Linked DNA regions of Homo sapiens: region 1 is linked to region 2. A link means that fine-mapping ties the variant in region 2 to the expression of a gene that starts in the linked region. Tissue or cell type: testis. Region 2 holds a variant in brackets; the other region holds the start of a gene. All regions are shown on one strand. Distances are from middle to middle.

The links. PIP is the estimated chance that this variant, and not a neighbour inherited with it, causes the effect.
Region 1: URGCP starts here. The variant in region 2 is fine-mapped to the expression of URGCP in testis (GTEx, PIP 0.94).

What each region holds. Positions count from the first base shown.
Region 1 is chr7:43,901,790-43,909,892 of GRCh38, reverse strand. It overlaps URGCP (upregulator of cell proliferation), which reads left to right and starts at 3,297. Exons shown (of 6, transcript NM_001077663.3): 1 at 3,297-3,331. The coding sequence starts at 3,318. URGCP-MRPS24 (URGCP-MRPS24 readthrough) reads left to right here and starts at 3,297. Exons shown (of 7, transcript NM_001204871.2): 1 at 3,297-3,331. The coding sequence starts at 3,318. RefSeq lists silencers at 2,872-3,031, 3,092-3,521.
Region 2 is chr7:43,868,644-43,876,746 of GRCh38, reverse strand. It overlaps URGCP-MRPS24 (URGCP-MRPS24 readthrough), which reads left to right. Exons shown (of 7, transcript NM_001204871.2): 5 at 7,371-7,439; 6 at 7,673-7,784. The coding sequence ends at 7,761. It overlaps MRPS24 (mitochondrial ribosomal protein S24), which reads left to right and starts at 7,230. Exons shown (of 4, transcript NM_032014.3): 1 at 7,230-7,290; 2 at 7,371-7,439; 3 at 7,673-7,784. The coding sequence starts at 7,252. It overlaps URGCP (upregulator of cell proliferation), which reads left to right. Exons shown (of 6, transcript NM_001077663.3): 6 at 1-834. The coding sequence ends at 80. It overlaps LOC124901620 (a long non-coding RNA gene), which reads right to left and starts at 7,101. Exons shown (of 2, transcript XR_007060296.1): 1 at 5,913-7,101; 2 at 5,105-5,799. RefSeq lists silencers at 4,656-4,831, 7,099-7,158, 7,459-7,518 and an enhancer at 6,749-6,868. The variant A/C (reference allele first, on the strand shown) is at 4,506.

The sequences.
Region 1 (8,103 bases), 33 kb before region 2:
TTTGTATTTTTAGTAGAGAACAGGGTTTCTCCATGTTGGCCAGGCTGGTCTTGAACTCCTGGCCTCAAGTGATCCACCCATCTCAGCCTCCCAAAGTGCTGGGATTACAGGCGTGAGGCACAGCACTGGCCAATTTTATTTATTATTATTATTTTTTAAATTATTTTTTATTTTTATTTTTGAGATAGTCTGTCACCCAGGCTAGAGTGCAGTGGCTGCAGTCACTGCAGCCTCCACCTCCTGGGTTCAAGCAATTCTCCTGCCTCAGCCTCCTTAGTAGCTGGGACTACAGGCACACGCCACCACACCCAGCTAATTTTTGTATTTTTAGTAGAGATGGAGTTTCACCATGTTGGCCAGGCTGTCTCAAACTTCTGACCTCAAGTGATCCACCCGCCTCGGCCTCCCAAAGTGCTGGGATTACAGGCATGAGCCACCGTACCTGGCCTAAAATACTGGTTTTTAACCTATGAAGTTGGCAATGATTTTGAAAAATTGTAAAAGTTACACAGTGTTTTGGAAAACTAGGACTATCAGGTGATTGTGCTGGGAAGGCAATCTGTATATATGTGTGTATATGTTGTGTATGTGTATATTTGTGTGTCTGTATATATGTGTGTAGGTATATGTATACATATGTGTGTATGTGTATTATGTATTTAAGTATATGTATATTAGTGTGTTTGTGTATGTGTGTAGGTATACACATACACATACACAGAGTATATATGTTTCAGAAGAGCCTTAAAATACTGATATCCTATTGATCTAGAAATTCAACTCTTCAAAATTTGGCATAAGGAAATAATCATTGATGTTTATGGGATGTTTTGGCTATAAGGATATTTATTACTCACATTCCTTATAATAATGAAATACTGGTAGCAATATTTATGTCCAACAGTAGGGGTTGGTTAAACATGATGGTCTAACCATATAGTGGGATGCTAAAATTCATGTTAAGTGTACGGGCCACGGGAAAGTTTCTCCTTGCCCTCTGAAGATTTACTGAAAAATCAACTCACAAAAAGCAGATTAATTGAAGAAAAGGCATACAAATTTTATGAATGTGTGCACAGGGAGAATTACAGAATGATTTCCCACCACCCAACAAGGTTCAGAAGCTTGTAGACCATCTTGGCAAAACAACTTACAGGAGGGGAGAAAGAGGAATTCTTTCAAGGGGCAATAAAGGATTACTAGGGAGAAGGAATGGATCAGGGCACAGAGATTAACTTGTACGCTATCCTATGAAAGGGTCTTTTCAGGTGTGGTTACATTCTTGGTCTTACAGGGAGGGCAAGAAAAACAGTTGTTCTCCTTGGAGGGTCTGGACTTTAAGCAGATAAAGACATTTTCTGTTTTGGGAGAAACCAGTGGGGAGGGAGATCAGAGAGACCTTGAGACTTCTTCAGTTCAGCTTGTTAAAGTGCCATATTTTGGGGTTATTGGTTTCTGAACCAGATTTTATGTCAGTAAACATGTATTCCTTATGTTTAAAAGAATGCTTATTTAGGCCAGGCATGGTGGCTCACGCCTGTAACCCCAGCACTTTGGGAGGCTGAGGCAGGCAGATCACCTGAGGTTGGGAGTTTGAGACCAGCCTGACCAACATGGGGAAACCCTGTCTCTACTAAAAATAGAAGAATTAGCCAGGTGTGGTAGTGGGCGCCTGTAGTCCCAGCTACTGGGAGGCTGAGGCAGAATTGCTTGAACCCGGGAAGTGGAGGTTGCAGTGAGCCAAGATCTCGCCATTGCACTCTGGCCTGGGTGACAGGGCAAGACCCTGTCTCAAACAAACAAAGAAAAAATTCTTTTAGTTTGATCTCCTTCATTTCATTACTCCCTTGAATCAGGCATTTAGGATTTAGGATTTCCCATTCCTCAAACTCTTCCTAACTCTGGTCCTCCTGGATTTGTCCTTATTTTGGGTGTCACAAGTTCGCGTGGCTTTACCTATCAGCTCCCATTTACAGAGCATTAATTATCTTCTGAACTCAAGGTAGCAGTTATGAATTTCTTTACCGAAGAGGACAAGGAGGCTCAGAAACATTGACTGGATTCTCCCAGGAGGAAAAGAGACCATGCATCACGCAATGTTTACTAACATTTAAAAATAGTTACAAATGTTTACAAATATTAATTCATTTAATCTTCACAGAGAGGAAGGGACTTATTTTTAGCCTTATTTTTCAAATAAGGAACTGTGGCCCTGGAAAGGTTCTATCTTGCAGGGGCTCCTGGGGCTGGTAATTGGTGGAGCCCAGATTCCAACACAGGTATTCTGGCTTCAGAGCTAAGGTTTTAATCACTGCTTTGCTGTCTTGTATTCTTAATAGTAGTAAACATTTTTAAATAGTGGTTGTTAATGATATTTTACTTTTAACTTTAATTTTATTTTTAAAAATGAAACGGGCGGGGCGGGCAGGGGGTCATCTCAATATGTTGCCCAGGCTGATCTCAAACTCCTGGGCTCAATCGATCCTCCTGCCTCGGCCTCCCAAAGTGGTGGGATTACAGACGTGAGCCACTGCGTTCGGCCAGTGATATTTAATATAATACTAAAAATGTTATCAACAATGGTTTACATTGTCCAGAGCTTTTTATTAAGCATTTTCACTTAGATCATTTTTGGAAACTCATTTTGCAGAGAGAAGAACTGAAGCTGAAAAATCTACCTGCCTAAGGACTCATAACTTGTAAGAATAGTTGTGAAACCTCACTGGAGGAACTGCAGATTCATTATTTTTCTTAATAACACACTATAAAGAATAATAAAAGTGCTTCGCATTGCCTAGAGCTTCACAAGGCCACTTTATACACATTTTACAATGGGTACCGTCTCAGAGAGGCCAGCAACTCGTCCAACACAGCACTGCAAGTAAGAAGTAGGAAAGTTATTGTTTTGCTTAATAATAAGGCCTTACGCTTCAGGGCTAAAGAAAAGCCTTTTCTTACAGAAATTAAACTCCAATTACAGAAAGGTGTGAAGTTCAGTAAGGCCCTGGGGCAGGTTATCCTACAGCTTTTGGCACCGCAGGCACCGCCCGGCGAGTTCCGGCCTCCAGGCACCTGGGCAGGTGGGCGTTGGGCGGGCTGCGGGCTGACCTGGGCCGCCCCGCCCCCACCCCGCCCCAGCTGTCCCCGGGCTGCTCCGAGAGGACCCCGGGCCCACCTTACCCCACCTCACCCCACCTCCACCCCTGGAGCGCGTCCCGGAGCGGGCGGGCGGCCGGCGGGCCAGGCCCCTCCCCGGCGCCGAGCCGCGGCCGCGCGGAGGAAGCGAAGGAGGCGGGAGCGGAGACCTCGCTGCGCTCATGGCGTCGCCCGGGTGAGTGCCGCCTCGCAGGCCCTGCGCCCCCGCGGCTGCCGGCAGGAACGGGAGCGGGACCCGGAGCGGCTCTGGCCTGCGGGCTCTGGTCTGGGATGCGGCCCGGACCCGGCCAGGGGCGCCCCCGCCCGCCAGGCCCACCAGGCCCACGGCCCGCTCGCGCCGACCTTGGGCGGACCGGCCGCGCGGGCGTGGGGGGCGGGCGGGGGCGCCGGCGGAGGACAGCGGTCCCCCGGGATGCGGGGGTCCGGGTACGCGGGCCTAGGGGATCCGGGGAGGGCGCGAGGCCCGGAGGTGCCCGGGGCGCGGCGGGAGCGAGGGCCCGGCGAGCGGCTGGGGAACCGGGGTGCGGGTCCTCGCCGCGGCCCGGGGCAACCCGCGGAGGCCTGGAAATGCTTCGCTCCGGCGCCTGGTATCGATGTTCCTGGGTTTTAAACTTGCTCGCGTTGGGAGTGGACGCTTGTTTGCCGCGTCGTTGAGACGTACCCAGAATGTCAGGATCCGGGCAGATGCAGACCCTTTGCTGACAGCCGGAGAGCCGCTCCGGGATCTCCTTGGTCGGGGCCATTGCCTACCGGCCTGCCTTGGGGTGGCTGCGCTTATTTTGATATTACCTCTTTTCAACTTTTTTGATTTAAATGTTATTCCTTTTAGGAAATGATGGCGACACATATAGTTTGTAATTTTTGAGAAAAAATTCTCACTTGGCAAACTAAAACCTCAGTAATTCATTATTTTTTTGTTTTTTGTTTTGATAATTTTACTAGTACTGAAATTTGGGAATGACAGTCCAACACTTTCATTTTACAAAGAAAGAAATTAGGCTCAAGGTCATCGCTTTAGTTGTTAAAATTCTTCTTTGACTGTTACCCATCATTCAGAGGGTCTTGGATCTAGTGGCTGTGATAGCCATTCAGAACAGTTCCCAAAGAGCTTTACAGGTGTGTGTTCAGTGGTAGGGGTGGGGAGGGGACGGTGCTAAGGGGCCGGGATCATGGATTTCGTGCCTCCTCCAGATGAGGCCTGAGCCATGCCCTGGGGTGATTTGGCTCAGTACAGTGGGCCTGAATGAAGCAAGCTGAATTTGAACCCCGCCTGCTGTCTTTCTAGGCTTTGGGGCAGTGGTCATTTCCGGGACCAGGCCTTTTCATTGCCAGCTGACTACCCAGCACTTTGAGCTCATGAATAGAGTAAGCAGGGAACCATCCCTGGGAAGGCCAGGCTGATTGACCTAGGGGTTCAAGGTCCTGCAGCATTCCTTTCCCCCTTGTCAGGAAAGGGTGGGCAGAGCCTCCTGGAGGCAATGTTGAGGGTGGCTGAACCTGTGTGGGGCTGCCCTGAACGAAGCTTTAAAAAAAAAAAAAATAGTGGTGCATTTGGTGCCCAAGTACACTACTTTGTAGACATGGGTCAGAGGTGGACTTAATGCTTCACTGGTGTTTCTGTGAGCCAGTAGGGCTTAAACTGTGTCCCTGTAGTTGGTGACATTTGGTATTTGCGGTTGTGATTATTTGTGTGACCCCCATGAGTCTGCAGTTTGTAATCTATAATTTTCTGCGGGATATCCATTGCAAAAGCTGAGGTCTCAAAACCTTTAGTATACAAGTCATGCACCACAAAATGACAGCGGAGGACCACGTTATATGACAGTGGTCCCATGCACAAATACTTATCATTGTGTTAGTTGCCTACAGTATTCATACTGTAACATGCTGTACAGGTTTGTAGCCTAAGAGCAACAGGCTGTACCATATTGCCTAGGTGCATAGTACACCTTACGATGTAGGTTTGTGTAAGTTTGCCCTATGATGCTCACACAAGGACCAAATTGCCAAATGACACATTTCTCAGAATGTATCCCTGTTGTTAAGTGACTCATGACTGTTGCTTTATTTCATTTTGTGGGGTAAGCTATGCACATATTATGTACACTGGCAGACATAGCTCCTAAGTGTCCACTTCTACAGGCTTCCCTGGTAGATCAGAGTCTAGCTAGGAAGACAGTGCTTTCTGAGACCCTCAGGGCTATCTCAGTCAGCCAGCTAGCAAACATTTAAGCTACTGCACTAGGTATCTTAGGGAGCAAGTCCACAGATAAAGGGCAGGGATGGGAAGGGACTGGTGATCTGGACTGGGCTAGTCATAGAGGAGTCTCCAAATTGATGTTTTTATTAAGTGACAATCTCCATGAGTTGGGAAGGAAAGAAGAAACGCTGACCATTTTTGAGGACCTTATGAATATGCCAGGCATTGTGCTAAATAAAGGAAATGGCAATCAAAGGATATGAAGGCATCAAAGGAAAAGATGTGTTTGAGAAATGCCCCATGGCCCAGTGTGTTTGGAGCTAAGTGGAGACAAGTTCAGAGGATGAGACTGGGACCAGATGATGGGACCTGGTCCCGTTTGTGGACTCACTGCCCACCACTCGCTGAAGGTAAATGAAACTATTTGCATTGGTGGAGCTCTCAGAGAATCAATGTGACAGCAGTATAGAGACGGCAGAGAGGGCAGAAGACAGGGAGCAGCTCATGCTGCCATCTCCCCTCTTTCGAACAGGCCTCACTCAACAGCTCATCTCTTGTCTTTGCCCCTTGCTTGGCTGTCTCACAACTGCCCAGATCTTCCTTGTCTGCCAGCTCCTCTGCCTGCTCTTTCACTGTTGGGGTTTCCTTGGGCTCTATAATCCATCTCCGCTAGTCCCAACACATGTTCTCTGCATGGTCACATCTGTTTTAGTGGCTTTAACTGTTGTCTGAATCAGAGGTTCTTAACTTAGGCTCCATGATTCATGGATGGGCTTCTGGGGGTCCCTTTGTTCTCTGAAATTGTATGCAGCATTGGGAGTAGTGTGTAATTTTCCTGGGCACAAGGTCTGTAGCTTTCAACAGATTTTCAAAGGGGCTCTTATCCTTAACAATGTTACAACTATTCATCCTAAATTTCCAGATTTTCATTTCCAACTACACTAGATACAGCTCCTCAAGTTTCTTTAACCTGGGTTAGCTGTGTGAAGTCTATATTTTTCAGATTGTTACTGATGGATAATTTGAAAAACAATAAATAAAGATCAAGTATAATTGGCTTTACATAGACCACCGATCTTAAAATCTTAAAAAGATTTTAAATAGTCACTTATTCTTATCAGAGTGACAGCTTTACAGAAACAACTAGCATCCCTCCTCCCTCCCATCTGAGTTTGGGGGGGTACCCTGACAGATGTTTTCCTTTGCATTTACATACTAAGTTTGTTCCTTGCTCTGTTTTTACATAAATGCTATCATACTGTTCTGCAGCTTGCTTATTTGCCCAACAATATGCCTTGAAATTCTTTCCATGCCAGAACAAGGAACAGATCCACATACATTTGTTTTTTGTTTTTGATTTACCTACATTTTTTTTCTCTCTTTCTCTTTCTCTCTCTCTCTTTTTTTTTTTTTTAATAGCAGTGGGGGTCTCATTATGTTGCCTATGTTGATCTTGAACTCCTGGGCTCAAGCCATCCTCCTGTCTCGGCCTCCCAAATTGCTGGAATTATAAGCACATTACACAGTGCCCAGTCTACCTACATTTTGACAGACATATAATATTCCATGGCATGGTTACATTATTCAGTTAAGAATGTTCCCGGTTTTCTCTAAGATAATGCTGCCCATCTGTGTCTCACTCTGGACATGTAGAGTACCTGCAAAGACTTGGACTGCTTGAGCAGAGGGCCTGCTTTTGTTTTTTGTTCTTCCTGCCTGTTGTAACTTGATGCTGCCAAATGATCCTCTTAAATGATTGTACCACCTTCCCTGCCACCACCAGATTTTAAGGATTCTCTGTACCTCCCAACACATGATGACATCATACATGAAAAGTTTTGCCTGCCTGATGGAATAATTGAGTCAAGAAATAGGATGCTAATGGCATCTTCGCTTACCCGGTCTTTAAAGATAGAAACTTCATCCCTGACCTCTGTATTCCCTTAGAAAGATTCCGCTTTTTTCTTTGATCCAGTGGGTAACAGCAAGTGAGTAAGTTGATCTCCATAAGTAACTCTCACTCCTCAGCGCTTTGTTTCAGAAAATATGGTCCCTTTCTGGCCAGGAGAAATGGAGTAAGACCTGCCCTAGAAGGGAGGAGCTCGGACACAGAATGGGTGGAAGGACCTGTGGGGTCCGAGTGGGGCTGTGGAGAATGCTTAGCTATATAGAGGTGGGACTCATGGTAGTGGATGAGGTGACTGAGTGATTGAAACCCAGGAATGTGTGGCTAATTGGGGTAGAGGAGAAGCCATCACTGGACGACAAACCCAAGGCCAGTTGTTCCTCTGTGGACTGAGTCCTTGCCTGAGGAAGGAGGGCACACGCACCTTGGCACCTGCCCCTCTTCTTCCCCCCTCCTCCTCCCTCTCCACCATCTTCTCCTCCCCCTTCCCTTCCCCTCCTCCTCCCTCTCCTCCTCCCTTCTCTGTTCTGTCTCCGTTCCTCCCCTCCACTCCTTTTCTTTCCTCTCGCCTGCTCCTCTCTCCTCCCCAGTGACCTCCTCAGGTCCTTTCCCCAGCCCACTGTTCCTTTAAACATTCAGCTGGAGACCTCATCCACCCTCCTGGCTGCTCCTCTCAGGAACATCTCGGCTCCTGGGAATTCTCAAGGACTCATCTACCTTGGAAGCTGAAAGCACCCCCATTAACATCCATTGGCTGTCAAAAGTACCTGACTTGACTTTTAACCTTTTGTCTTTGCTGTCCAGGAAGATTCTCTCCCACCACTGTCATTTTATGGGAAGG
Region 2 (8,103 bases):
TACTCGAAAACATCAGGAACGGCTTGTCGAACCAAAACAAAAACATCCAGCAGCTCATTGAGCTGGTGAGACGGCTGTGAGTGTGCAGAGAAACCCAGTTCAGGTGTAGGAGGCTGCTGTGGGCAGCCCTGTCTGATGGGGCACCCGTGTGGGGCTGTGCTCTGGTGCCTGAGAATGGCTGGTGCCCAATCGACATGAGAAGACGAGGAAAAGACAGGGTTTGGAGTCTCCTCAACAGTGTTAAAAGAGGAAGTGACCTCACAGACCAGCTCAGAGATGTTACCAAGAATATCACAGCCCCCAGGGTAGGGAGACAAGCAGCAGTTTGTTCTGTCTCAGCTCCTGTCAAGGATCCTGCGGGGTGGGCCCTCTGTATAGCTGCTCTCTGTCACTGGCCCCTGGAGTGGGAGCAGCGTCCTTAGTCACTGCAGGCCCAGGCGGGCAGGTGGTCCCAGGACAGAGGTGGGGAAGTTGTCCTGAGGAAGCAGAAGTAGGCCTTGCTCCCGCCCAACCCAAGGGCCTCCAGTGGACCAGCATTCAAGATGTGAGTGCCCGTGGTGTGCAAGGCACTCCCATGGCACCGTATTTATTGACTGATCTGTGAAGGCTTCCCTGACCCCTGCCCAGGAAGAGTTCACTGGTCGCTCTGTTGTGCCCCACAGCACTTTGTTATACCTCTGCCACACACTTCACGCAGCGCGTTGTAACTCATGTGTTTACATGTCTGTCCCCCCAGACTGTGAGCTCCTTGAGGGCAGGGACTGTACATTCTCCAGCTCTGTGTCCCCAGGGCCTGGCACATTGTAGACGCTTAATAAATGTCTGTTAAATGAATGAGTGCACAAGTGATGGTAATGGGCAGGTTCTGCCTCTCTGTGCCTTAATTCTCCTGTTTCTCAAAGAGGATAGCAGCATCTGTCTGAGGAGGGTGTACGGTACAGGCAGTATCTGGAATGGTAGATAGCACAGAGATGCACCACTTAAAAAAGCCATCCTGTTCCCTCTCTTTAAGGCAGGAGCCATTCTTCAGGCTGTTACTGGGGATTAAAACTAAATACCTTCACAGTAACTCTGAGGTCTTTCCACTGTCACCCCATTTCACAGTTGAGGAAAAGGAAGCCTAGAGCAGGTAATCCCCTGCCCCAGAGCTTACACCTGGATGGGCAGAGCTGGAGCGGATGAAGGGTGGTGCTGTCACGCCCAGCCCTGCATCTCTTCCTCTCATCCTCTCCAGACTCCCATGGCTTCTGGGCTCACCCCTGGGCAGCCATGTCAGTGCCAGCGCCTCCTCTTACATCCTCCCCGACCTCATCCACAGCCCACTTGCCACCATTCGAACCAGAGGCTTGGCCAAGGACTTGGTAGTTCTGCCCTGTCAGTTTTCCCGCTGGAGTCCTTGCCTGTGCTGGCCCTTCCCAGAGGCCAGTGTCACCTCACTGGGCCTCAGAACCCCACCTGAGCCCTTTCACCAGCTCTAGGAAGCTCTGCTTGATCCTCTGGGCCTTGCTTAGACCTTGGAGCCTCTTTCTCTTTGTGTTTCTTGACTTCAGAGAAACCAGGCCCTTCCCCAAGAGCTCCTACCATGTTTCTTGTCCTCCTTTCACTAGACACAGCAAGGGAGCCTTTAGCTCTCGGGAGCTCACCAGCCTTCTAGACTGGAATCCTTTCTTGAACAAAAGGCTTCCTGGTCCCTCTTCTGGAGATGCCTGGCAGGCTGCCTGCTGTGGATTTCTGGATTCCCCAGATGCTCCACCTGCTGCTCCCGGGACATCCAAACTGTTGCCTCCTGCGTTCCAGGAGCCTGGTTCTCTGCAAACCTGGTCTCTTAGTAATAAGTTTAGGAAAACCTTTCCCTTTTTCATTTTCCTGCTCTGTTGCCTGGGCTGGAATGCAGTGGCGCGATCTCACTGCAACCTCCACCTCCTGGGTTCCAGTGATTCTCAGCCTCCCAAGTAGCTGGGACTACAGGCGCCCACCATCACAAAAATACAAATAATTTTTGTATTTTTAGTACAGACAGGGTTTCACCACGTTGGCCAGGCTGGTCTCACACTTCTGGCCTCAAGTGATCCACCTGCCTCAGCCTCCCAAAGTGCTGGGATTACAGGAGTGAGCCACCGTACCCAGCCTCCTCCCACCCTTTTTGAAGGGTTGATGTTTCAAGTCTGTGAACTGTGGATGGGCCTTGCCTTTAGCCCTCCAGTCAGTGCTGCTCTTAGGATTCCAATGAACACAACACCCAGGACTTGCCTTTCATATCTGGAGCTCAAAATGCTCACCTTCAGGTCTGAGAAGCCCCAGAATTTGCCATGGGGCTACTGGACGGTCATGTCCTTGGAGCCAAGCTTAGTAGAGAGAGAGCCACCCAGAAAGGTGGACAGGGCGGCAGGCTGCTCACCAGAGCATGGCCGTGTGCTCACAAGGGGTCCTGTTTGATGAAAGTGTCAAACCAAGCAAGTACCATCTTGGAGGAAATGGGCCTGAAGAGTGCTTGGGACAAGGAACAAGCGTGTCTTCGCCTCTCTTGTGAGATGAGGTGTAGCTTGCTTCAGCACATTGGATGTCCGGCCTGGTTTTGAACCTCAGCCTTACTTCCTACTAATTATATGACCCTTTAGCAAAGTTACTTGGCTTCTCCAAGCCTTAGTTCCCCCTACTAGCGCCTGTGTAGGAATGGAAGGTGCTTATACAGTGCCTGCCCTGTGGTGGAAAAGCCAGTCTGTGCATGAGGTAAGTGAGGCACCCATCTCTGTGTCTACACCATTCTGCACACCCATGAGGTTTGTGGAGAGGAAACTGCCTTCTGCATCAGCCTCAAACATTTTAACATGTCAGATCAGGATTCATCTTTTAATCAATCAATGGTACCTTAAGATAATTTGCAGCCAGTTTTCCTTCTTAATGGTATGTAAAACAGCATCTTCTCATCGATACTATCTTAATTTACTGAAACAGCACCTAGCAGAACTGGTGGTGGTCTGCAGTTTATACAATATAAACCTGATCTGGTAACTACCCCAACTCCTCAGGTGTGGTGTATTAGCCCAGTAAAAGGGAAAATCCTCTTTCTGAGTCACTAATAAAATAATTTGGCCATAAACCTATCCTGATTTCTTCTAAGACTCCAACAAAATTTCACCAGAGTGCAGCTTTATGAGCACTGATGAGTCAGGGCTGTACAAGAGCCAAGATGACCTTGGTCCTGGTCTCCTGTCATTTCGTCAACCACACCCTCGCCCCGCCACATACACACTTTGGAGGCCATGGTTTCTTCCATGCTGCTGTCTGCCTGGGGGCCCCTTCTGCCTGTCTCTGGCCCTGGTTGACTGGCGGGCACATCTCTCAGAACAGCCTCTGGTGCCAGTCGCACCTCCATTTGTGCCCACCCAAGGGTTCAGAGGCCTTTCTGTGCCCTTCTTGGTCCTTAGCACATTTTCATTGTCTCCTCATCTGAGCCCATTATATCTAGATCTAGCAGTTTCTGGGAGCCAGGGAGTGGCAGTCTCAGGGGCTGGAGCTCATGAGCCCATCCCTCGGTCTTCTCTTTCTTGAGTCCGCACCCCCTCTATCCTAAGCACCAGTTTGGCTTCTTCAGGTTCTGACTTTTAGCCCAGGGTTCTGGTGTGGCACTGGGCATTTCTAATTGCCCATAGCTCTGATAACAGGGGAGTGGATTCCTTGGGACCGCAAAGCTGATGTCAGTAATTATAGCTGGGGACCTCACCCACCAAACCCAGCCCTTGTGCCTCACCAGAAGGAGAACAGAGGTGGGGGGATGGAGCAGGAGCTCACAGGGAAAACGGCTGAGCTGTCTTGGCAATCTGGTTTGACACGCCTCTCTGCTTTACTCATAGGGTTTCAGTTGTTTGACCTATTTCTCAGAATAGAGCTGAGAGCCTCTGGGATTTTTCCTAGTGAACGAGTTATTAGGAAAAAAAGAATCACAAGGAATAATGTAAAAACCATAGGTTTACAAAGTGTAAAGTGTCAGCAGTTCTGAGTTAGGATAAGTCAGCTGTAAAGAGAACCACCATGAGTGGAGTGATATCGGCTCACCCTGCAGCCAACAGGAAGGGAGATGTCACCCCACCGCCCCCAGGCTGGATTCTGAAACTCTTCAGGCTCTGGAAGTACAAGGGGGCTGACAGCTCCCTTTTACACAGTGTCTCTCCATGGCCCAGCCAGTGCTGTATCCCCTGAGCACTCTGGGTGAGCCCATGGTGGCTGTGCTGCACCCAACTGGACAGATCATCTCAAAGAAGTCCTGACCTCCCAGCAGACCCCTCCTCCCTTCTTCTGCCCTTGTGACCAAGAGTGGTGGGCGTGGACTATGGCTATGTTCCTTAGAGAGCTGCCATAATCTTCCAGGGGCATCCAACAGCACTCTCCCCGAAAGGGGGCTCTGCAAATACACATTTTGGGAGTCTCCCAAATAAACTGAGTGAGTTCAGGACACTGGTTCTCAGCCCCGACTGCAAATTGAAATCATCTAAGGGGCATTTTAA[A/C]AGTGTGAGTGCCTGCCCTCTCCCCACAGAGGTGGTGTGGAACCCAGGGGGCTCTGTCATGCAATTGCAAATCACTGCTTTGAGAGCATAGGAGCAACTTCTGGTTCTTGGTTATTATGTACAGAACAAAGGCTCATGTCAGAGAAAAAGCAGTTTTACATCCCTGTCTCTGCATTAGGCTCCAGGAAGGGTGCAGATGGGTCTTTCACATGGGGTCATATGCTCCTGGCCTTTCCATGTCCAGGCAGTCCTTGAGGGCCACTTGGGAGCTGTCTGCAGCAAGCCACAGAAACCCAGGCCATTCCCTGATCCTAACATGGTCTGAACCCTCACCCCCAGGAAGTGATACTGAAAGAGCACATGCTTTGGAGCAAAAAGGCCTGCTACCATTTACTACTTCTGTAACCTCAGGTGAGTCTGTGAGCCTCCATCTTCTGCTCTGTGAAGCCTGGAAATACTGCCTCCTTTATGGAATTAATAGGAGAAGGAAAGTGCATCAAAACAACAACAAATGGAAGTTACAGAAAAATAAAACATCCCCAGTCAGATTTTTCTGCTGATTATTTAAAACAATATAACATTCATACTGATGTATAAAAGTCATTTTAAGTAATTTTAATCATGTAAAGACCGACACGTCCCCTTTCCCCCAATCACAGTATAAACAAAGCTAATAAAGGATAGATAACAAGATATTTGAACCCCAGAAATGTCTGCCACTGAAATGGCCATTGTGATGCTTGGAAAGATCTAGATCGGTTTGGAATTCCAGAGAGAGATCTCAGGCATAAGGGAGAATGGCTTGAATAGAGGAAAGCATAAATTTGATCATTTGATTGCCTACTGCTTTATGGGCTAAACTTGATTCCCAACCACAGCCTTCGTGGTGTGGCCCCTGCCCACCTTGGGCCCCAATAGGTGTTGTGCCATTGCCACCTCTGCCTCTGATCAGCCCAAGGATCTTGTTTCCCTTTCTCCTTCCCCTTTCCTCTGATTAGGGTGGTGTTGCTATGAGTTCTCACAGAACCCTCAATAGCTGGCTCATCTCCCTAACGGGATATGTGGCTATCAGGGACTCGTTAAAAACAACAACAAAACCCACAACTGCTCTCTCCCTCTGCCAGGCACATCATACTGTACTTCTCACAACCACCATTATTGTCCCCAGTTTACAGATGAGAGAAACCGAGGCTCAGAAGGTTCAGTCACTTGTCCAAATTACACAGCCAGGAAGCATTGGGTCCACGATTTGGACTCAGGCAATTCAGATGCCACATCCCATGTTCCTCACCACCTTGGAGCAAATTAATGAAACTTAACAATTATAAAATTATTGAACATTATGAAAACTTTAAAAAATAATTGTCAGTTGAAAAGGATTTCTTAGGAAATGTTGAAAGTTCTTACATTTGCAAAGTATGCATTGGAGGGCACCTCATCCCTGTTCTGTCCCTTTATTCAATATGCATAACAGTTGGGGGCCGCAGTTCCTAAAAAGTAAGAATAAAACATTTCTGGTGAAGTGGACATGGAAGACCTTGTCCTTTTATTACGGGTTTTTTGAGAACCCACCTTCATGTAATCAGAGGAATCTTGGTCATGGGAAATGGGCTGGACTGAAGTCAAGAGACTTGTGTCTTGGTCCCTCTTTCCCTCTTCTCAGTGTGGTCATGGGCAACTCATTTCCACCGTTCTTCCATTTCCCCTTCCCATGGATCATAATCCAGTCCTCCCCCTGACAGGAAACCGCAGCAGTATGCAAGTACTGTACCATTAAGGGGAATGATGTAGACCCAGAACGGCCAAAACATTGGCAATTTCACATCACTCAACCAAACACAACCCATCATTGATTAAATATTCTCTTGATCCTAATAGCTCTATAAGGTAGTACTATTATTAAGGCCCATTTTATAGATAATAGAACTGAGTCTTAACTGTACAAAGATTGTTATACATGGGTCTGACTCCAGAGCCCGTGTTTTTTCCATGACCGTGGTGACTTCTAAAATAAAATATCCCGCGTTGCTATTTTTCCGTTTGACATTAATAATTACTGGATACCAATAATAGTGGCGACGCACTGGTTTCAGCATTACAGGCCCTGCGATATTCTCACGAATCTCCTTGCCCTCCGGCCCCTTCCCCGTACTTAAAATTTTCCTTCCTCAGGGGCCAGTCACCACTGTGGTCACATGTGGCAAACCCATTCTTGCATAACTGCGTAAGTCATCCTTGAAGAATTGGGTGACGTTTTAACCAAAATATGTTTCTTCTTTATTTGTGGATAAAAGTCTGGAGGGTTTTTCTGTTTTGTTTTTCTACGAATATTATTTGGAGGCATAACTAGGACCTGGGGAAACGCTTGGCTCCTCTTCGAGCCCCGAGGGTGCAGGTTGGGCAGGGCGGGCTCCGGTGGGCCGCACACCCATCACCCGTACTAGCGTGAGGTTGTCGAAGAGAAAATCTCACGTTTCGCATCCTCAAATTTCCGGATCTGAAACCCTATGCAAGCAGCAACCGCGGGAGAGCGAACAGCGGCGGGATGAGCATTCACAAGGCTGAGCATTCACAGGGCTGCGGGGAAGGCGGGAGTAACAGCTAGCAGCATACCGCGGCCCCGCCCCGCAGAGGCCCTGCCCCGCCCCCGCCAGAGTACAGAGTACGAGCTCCGACTTGGTCTCGTCCGCGGTCGTCCCCACCCCTCAGCGCGCTGTGGTACGTCCCGCGCTCCGCTTGGCCCAAGATGGCGGCCTCCGTGTGCAGCGGGTTGCTGGGGCCACGGGTGAGTGGGGCGACTCGGCAGGTCCCTGCGAGTCGGAGGTGGGGTCCCTAGTTTCCGCCTCACGCGCCCTCCCTCCACAGGTGCTGTCCTGGAGCCGAGAGCTGCCTTGCGCTTGGCGCGCCCTGCACACCTCCCCGGTCTGCGCCAAGGTGAGCACCGCCGGGGCAGGGGCCTGGGGGCCTGGGGGCCGGGGGGCCGGGGGCCGGGGAAGCCGTGCGGGCTGAAGGGGGCGTGTCGCTGGGGTCCGAGGCGGGGCTAGGGTCGGGGCTTAGGGATCAGGGGATTGGGGCCGGGGAACAGTGCCAGCTGACTGGGGGGACATGGCGCGAAGTAGGGGTCTGGATCGGGGATCTCGTGGAGTCACGGCCCCTTTTGCTCCTAGAACCGGGCGGCCCGAGTACGCGTAAGCAAGGGGGACAAGCCGGTGACCTACGAGGAGGCACACGCGCCGCACTACATCGCCCACCGTAAAGGCTGGCTGTCGCTGCACACAGGTGAGCGGACCCCAGGCCTCCAAAAGGAGCACTCAATCCGACTGTCATGTAAACAAAATGAACACGTGTCACAGGTTTTCTTTAACTCAGGAAATAATGCTAGGGTCAGAAATCTATGAAACCAACTCAAGGGAGACATAAAAAAGCAGAGATATATATAGATCAGGATGTTGAAACAAATTTGAAGATGGATGCAAAACTGACTTTTTCCATGGCAGGCAGGGACTCAATTGATCCTCCACTGAACAGAAATTATTTGCATGTCTACAGACAAGAATTATTTTGCATTCCTGTCAGTTATCTGTAATTTACAGAGCTG